Homo sapiens: one gene and its partner. The protein of the gene in region 2 purifies or fractionates together with the protein of the main gene of each other region. This does not show direct contact. Each region holds a gene or a part of one and is shown on either strand. Other genes may lie near its edges. The genes, in order: ACVR1 and SACS.

Region 1 (2,525 bases), on a different chromosome or scaffold from region 2:
AGGCCAGATTGGACCCCTTAATGATTTTATGGGTGCCAAAAGCAGCAATACTAACCTAGAGATAATCCTGAAATTTCCAAATAGGGTCATTTCTCATTGTTTTATACCTGCTACTACTTATGAGTAGCAATACAGGATCTTCAGCATCCAGCAGCTTGTGTTTGGGATTTCAGATATACAGAGATGGAAAGGAGGTTAAAAGCTTCACTTAAAGTCTCTTGGTTTATACATGCAGTCTTAGGGCTAATAGCAGTAGTCATGAGTCTCCCGATTCCTGAAGCTGCATATTCACAGAAATTCTTACAAATATTGTCATTCACTAGCAACCCCTATGAGATATGGCTTCTTCAAGAATGGAGTATTTTTCTGAACTTACTCTTCTAGATCTAAACCCTTCTATATAAAATAGGAAGAGAAAACAACAGATCCACGGGACAGATCACTCAGATGCAATACCAGTTGAAACTCAAAGGGAAACAAATAGCAAACAATGGAAAAGAGCTCTAAAACTGAGAAACTGGCATTCTTACCGGGTCTGAGAACCATCTGTTGGGTATGTTTGGCCTTTGTTGATCCACACAGACTACCTTCCTCATATCTTCAAAACTTGGGTCATTGGGAACCACATCGTAGAACGGTGGCTTGTAATCCTCCACTATACCTGCACACAAGGACAAGAATTGTGTTCGGTTAGCAAGAGAGTACAGGTTGCCCCAAGGTTTCATTGATGGGTGTCACAGGTTATAATGTGACAGAAGAAAATACTAATCACCTTCCTCATACCTCAGGGCAGTCCTGGAAGCTAGAGGTAGGTCCTAAAACAGGTGGGAGAAAAAGGCAATAAATACACACCCTGCATGGTATTGGAAGAAGGATAATTGTTAGAAGGAAATACGTGAAAACTTCTCATGTAATCATAACTATTAGCAAAATTCTCCAACAGTGTATATTAACAGCTCTGTAACGCCCAACAGGGCACTGGAGACATAGAACAAAAATTCCTTTGGTGATAAAAACCACCCAAGCTACCTATGGAAAGTACCTGAATCTAGTGGTTTCAAACCATAAATAGAAATAAAAAGTTGTCCACAAACTAGAGCTAGGGAGTAATAAACCAAGACCATCATCAAAATACCCCTTTCTTTGTTAGAAAAGTATTTTGTTAAGAAAAACATTGCTATAAATTAATCTCTTCCATTAGGAGGGATGCAAATAATATCATAGGAAATACTCATTTCCTCATTCATTCATTCTACATGTACTGAGTACCCTCTAACTACAGGCACAGCTGTCTGACTGATGGCTCTATTATTTACTATCATATTGAAGGCACAAAATAAAATGTAAAGAGGATAGCCATGTGGGAAGGCAGAGGAAAAGAAGGATAAATAATGAACTCTTCCTCTGCCCAAAAGCAAATATGAACAGTAGCTAATACCAGCTTCTGCCCCTGCATGATTTCCAATGGCCTGGAAACTTTTTCTTTTCCAGCAGAATTATATCAACTCCTTAAACAGAAAAATTTTTAACTTCATCATTTGGAATTAGAAAATGGATTCTTCCCCTTCATAGAAATAAAACCAAGACATCTATTATTTCCTTTCCCTCAACAAAGGGTTCAAACAATGAGGTAATAACTTGGTTTACTGCTCTCTTTTCTTCCTCCAGGCGACTTTCTTCTATTCCTAAATACCTAAGAAGTTGTTGGAGGCGACAGAAGGAGTGTGAGGAAAGTTGTAATTCGGTTGTTCTAGTTCCTACAAGCCACCTGAAAAGCTTCAATTCCCTTTTCATTTATCACAGAAATTACTCAACAGTGGGAATCCATCCTTACAAATTCCATACAAATACAAACCATTTATGCAAAAGATTAGATATAAGGAGCATCTTTTCAAGAAATGCTACATATCTTTTTAAAACTTCACAAATTTGGCTAAATAAAGGTTTATATTTGAGATGGAAACAAGTCTAAATTATATTTTTTAAAAATCTAGGCTGGGTGTGGTCGTTCACGCCTGTAATCTCAGCACTTTGGGAGGTCGTGGTGGGTGGACCACTTGAGGTCAGTGTTCGAGACAAGCCTGGGCAACATGGCAAGACCCTGTCTCTACTAAAAATACAAAAATTAGCCGGGTGTGTTGGCGCGTGCCTGTAGTTCCAGCTAACTCAGGAGGCTGAGGCACAAGATTTGCTTGAACCCGGGAGGTGGATGTTGCAATGAGCCAAGATCAGACCACTGCACTCCAGCCTGGGTGACAGAGTGAGATTCTGTCTCAAAAAAAAAAAAAAACTAGTTAATTCCAAATAACTTACCCACATTGTGTAACTGCATTTGAAATGCATATCAGTCAGTGGATTAAAACCTTTCCTGGCAAATCATAAACATCATATTGGGTATAAACTGCTACTCTCAGAAATCTTGGAACACCTCATCTTAGAGGCCCTTCTTCTCCTGTAAGGATCCCAGGAAACATTCAAACAAAAATCTTTTAATTATTTTCAGTACTAACAGACACCATCTAAAA
Region 2 (3,833 bases):
TTCTACCCTACCATTTGGGGAGTAGCACCACCTGATGGAAGAGAACATTCTTCGGTCTTCTCCTCACCATGGCTTGAGAATCGCATAATCTCGCTGTGCCCAACTTTCCTCATCCCTAAACAGGGCCAGCTTGCCTTATCCATGAACTGTATCACCGCAACACCAAACTGAGCTGTGTTCTAACAGCATTTAGTCAACTGCAGACGGTTTTTGCAAATATTAGATGCTACTACTTTTGCTGATCTAATATTTTTTAACACATGAAGTGACATGAAATGTGTTCATGATACTCTCTGCCCACTGATTCATGACCTCCTCTCATGCTTCAGGGGTCAAAACAATCAGTGCTGTCCAGCAGCTGTTAGGGACAGGGGCTCCCCTCCTCCCCAGCTTGGAACCTCAAGCCACTGCCCACAGCTAGCAAGCAGATGTGCCACGCAGTGACCTCTTGGCCTTCCCAGCAAAAATATCCTATTTTGGCATATGGGCTTGACCCACAGTAGGAAAACTTGGCACTACTGTACATATGATCTCATTTAAGGAGTAGGAAGATAAACATGCCAGCTGCACTTACTCACTGATGGGAAAAGTTCTTTGAGTTACACAGTTTCAAACAGGAACAGCCAGGAGACTGGGGACTTAAATCATAACTATTGTATAAATAATGGGAGCTGTTCCCTGAGCTAAACGCCGCCCTTTGGCAGAGGTAGAGCCTTTTGGCAGAGGGAGGCAGGAGAAGAGTGTGGGAAGTGAAGAAGTTCCTGAGGTGACAAAGTGAATTGCACCGGAGAGAAGGGGGGATAAAGCTGCTTCCCAGAAACTAGGACAGCAACACCTGGCTGGTCCCCGAGGACGAGGACGGGACAAGAAAGGCCTCTCCTGCAGGAATGAGGTTAAAATACAATCAGGAACCACACGAATACTCTATCTCCTCTGATATGCTGTCTTGTCTGTTTGTTTAAGAGTGTCTTTGGGACTAGTAAAGCCCCTCTTCCCTGAAGGATTCCTTCGCTTTTCATAGTTTTCAGTGCTGCCGTGTTCACAGACACGCCTCTGCAGCTGCACCTGGCAGAACAGCTTGAGTTTCCCTAGAAACGCTCTTTGAGAAAGGAATAGAGGCAGAATTGCCCTTGGTGATCTCCTAAGAAATGGGGTCCATGTTCATCTGAAGATGGGAATGAAAAATTCATCCTTTTGGTTCAACCAAATTCATACATGGCCAAATCCTCTGGAATATGGTGAAAGCTGACCCTTGAAAGCCGCTATCATTACAAAAACAAGGAGCCAAATGCAGACAGACTTCAGGCCCACAGAACGCCTCCATGGGAATTATCAGCGAAGTAATCATCTCACTCTCCTAACTTCAGGAGAAAATATGAGTCAGCAAAGACTAAATTGGTTTAAAAATAGAATATTTGCAAAATGGAAAAGTCGGATGAATTCACGCTATAAATCAATAGACCTTTAAAGGTAAGGCACAGCAAGCATTTTGGATGACATTAATGAAAGACCTGTGTTGGCATAGTGTGCTGCAGGAAAGGTCGGGGGTCACCACAGCCAGTACCAGACCTTAAATATAATCCTGAAATTAAATATGTACGTAAAATAGTTTCTAGAGCACAAAAGGTGAAGGTAAAGGAGAGTGCTACTGATCTTTTGTGTGTGTGTAATAAAGATTTCGATGTAAAATGTACAACAGAAAAAATACTGTATTTCAATAATAAGAAAAATATATAAATTATTCCCCCAGTGCTCCAAATCCCTTCTGTGTCATACAAATCTTTCTCATCTACTTTGCTGAAAGTTGCTCAAGAATATCTTATTCACCTTTGACTCTCCTACTTAGGTTTATGGATACAGAAAGTATTCAATAAAGAGTGAATAATTTAGTCTCTTTAGCCAATTTACAGATAATAAAACTACACATATTTTGTATGTAGTTTATCTGGCCTCAGATTCTAGCTTGTCAACTGGCAGAGCTAATTGTGGAGGCAGGAGACTAGAAGGCTGGCACCGAAATAGAATCTCCCAGAGTCTTAGGTTTGCCTTCAAAAGCTCAATTATTCTCAAAGATAAAATTTTACATAAAAATAATATCACATATGAGTGAATTGTATGGTATGTGAATATCTCAAAGCTGCTAAATGAAATTTTAAAAATAGATTATATGACTAAAATATATTTGATGTTTAAGTGTCATTTCAGAATACATAATATCTTAATTGATATTATCTAATAATATTGACTTTTTGAAGGAAAAATAATATTCAATTATTTCTTTAAAAACTAATTCTTTGGGGAGGATTGACCATGTACAACCATGGCAGAGGCTCACTAAACTGTGATTCAGTCGTTGAGGTAGGGATTTTTTTTTTTTTTTTTTTTTTTTTTTTTTTTTTTGAGACGGAGTCTCGCTCTGTCACCCGGGCTGGAGTGCAGTGGTGCGATATCGGCTCACTGCAAGCTCCGCCTCCCGGGTTCACGCCATTCTCCTGCCTCAGCCTCCTGAGTAACTGGGACTACAGGCGCCCGCCACCATGCCCGGCTAATTTTTTTGTATTTTTAGTAGAGACGGGGTTTCACCGTGTTAGCCAGGATGGTCTCGATCTCCTGACCTCGTGATCTGCCCACCTGGCCCTCCCAAAGTGCTGGGATTACAGGCGTGAGCCACCGTGCCAGGCCCGAGGTAGGGATTTTTAACCTATCATGAATCCCATTTAAGAAGGAGGAAGCTGAGGCTGCAAGAGGTTAAGTGTCAGAACTAGTATGATGTGGAGCCAGGTTCCAAAACCCAGTATATCTTCCTCCAAATACATTAAAATCTTGGGTACTTTTTATTACTATTCTTAGCAGGGACTCTCAGGAATATGACAGTAAAATGAACATAGATCTGTTCTTTGTAATCAGGATTGTCTCTGGATGGTCACTTAGCATAAACATTTAATATAATATTGGCTGGGCTCACGCCTGTAATCCCAGCACTTTGGGAGGCTGAAGTGGGCAGATCACTGGAGATCAGGAGTTCAGGACCAGCCTGGGCAACATGGTGAAACTCCGTCTCTACTAAAAATACAAAAATTAGCCGGACGTGGTAGCAGTCACTTGTAATCCCAGCCACTCGAGAGGCTGAGGCAGGAGAATCACTGGAACCCGGGAAGTGGAGGTTGCAGTGAGCCGAGATTGCACCACTGGCCTCCAGCCTGGGTGACAGAGTTAGACAACATCTCAAAAAAAAAAAATTAATAAATAAAACTAAAGGAATATTTGGTGTAATTGACAAAAAACTCATAAAGATTGGTTGTAATTTATGTTTGAAGCTTAAAGACCTAACAAACTAATATCCTTAAGCTCTAAGTAACTATCATTGATCAAGTAAAGCTCTGTTTATATCATATTGCCAAATTTAGCAAATAAAAATTATAAATATAAACATATACACCTTAAGTTTGAGTTTCAGATAAACCACGAATTATTTTTTAGTATGTTTATGTCTTATGCAATATTTTTTGTATTTAATCTTGTAATCCTATCAGGGTTTTTAAATGGTGAAATTTATCATTGCATTAAAAACAAGGAAAAAGGCTAAAGTAGTACTATGTGAAAATGTGCACAAATTCTAGATACGTATAGAATTCAAATACTCCTTTCTAGCACTTAGTACTTTAATGAGGTAAGGATTTAAATGATCACCAATAATTATATTAGGATGGCTTTGATTTATTTTTAAATGTCATTTCAGAACACATTAAAAGGCTATGTGGACTGTAGAGCCCTTATTTTCTGCCCCAGATGACAAACTCATGGTGTAATCTCGAGCAGAATATTTAAAACAA

What was found.
Region 1: the proteins of SACS (region 2) and ACVR1 purify together in Homo sapiens (co-immunoprecipitation; one large-scale study listed by IntAct). This does not show direct contact.

What each region holds. Positions count from the first base shown.
Region 1 is NC_000002.12:157,737,910-157,740,434, forward strand, and holds part of ACVR1 (activin receptor type-1 precursor), read right to left. Parts: intron 662-2,525; coding exon 531-661; intron 1-530. UniProt on the Homo sapiens protein: Bone morphogenetic protein (BMP) type I receptor that is involved in a wide variety of biological processes, including bone, heart, cartilage, nervous, and reproductive system development and regulation.
Region 2 is NC_000013.11:23,426,981-23,430,813, forward strand, and holds part of SACS (sacsin), read right to left. Parts: intron 1,890-3,833; exon of another isoform or gene 1-1,889. UniProt on the Homo sapiens protein: Co-chaperone which acts as a regulator of the Hsp70 chaperone machinery and may be involved in the processing of other ataxia-linked proteins.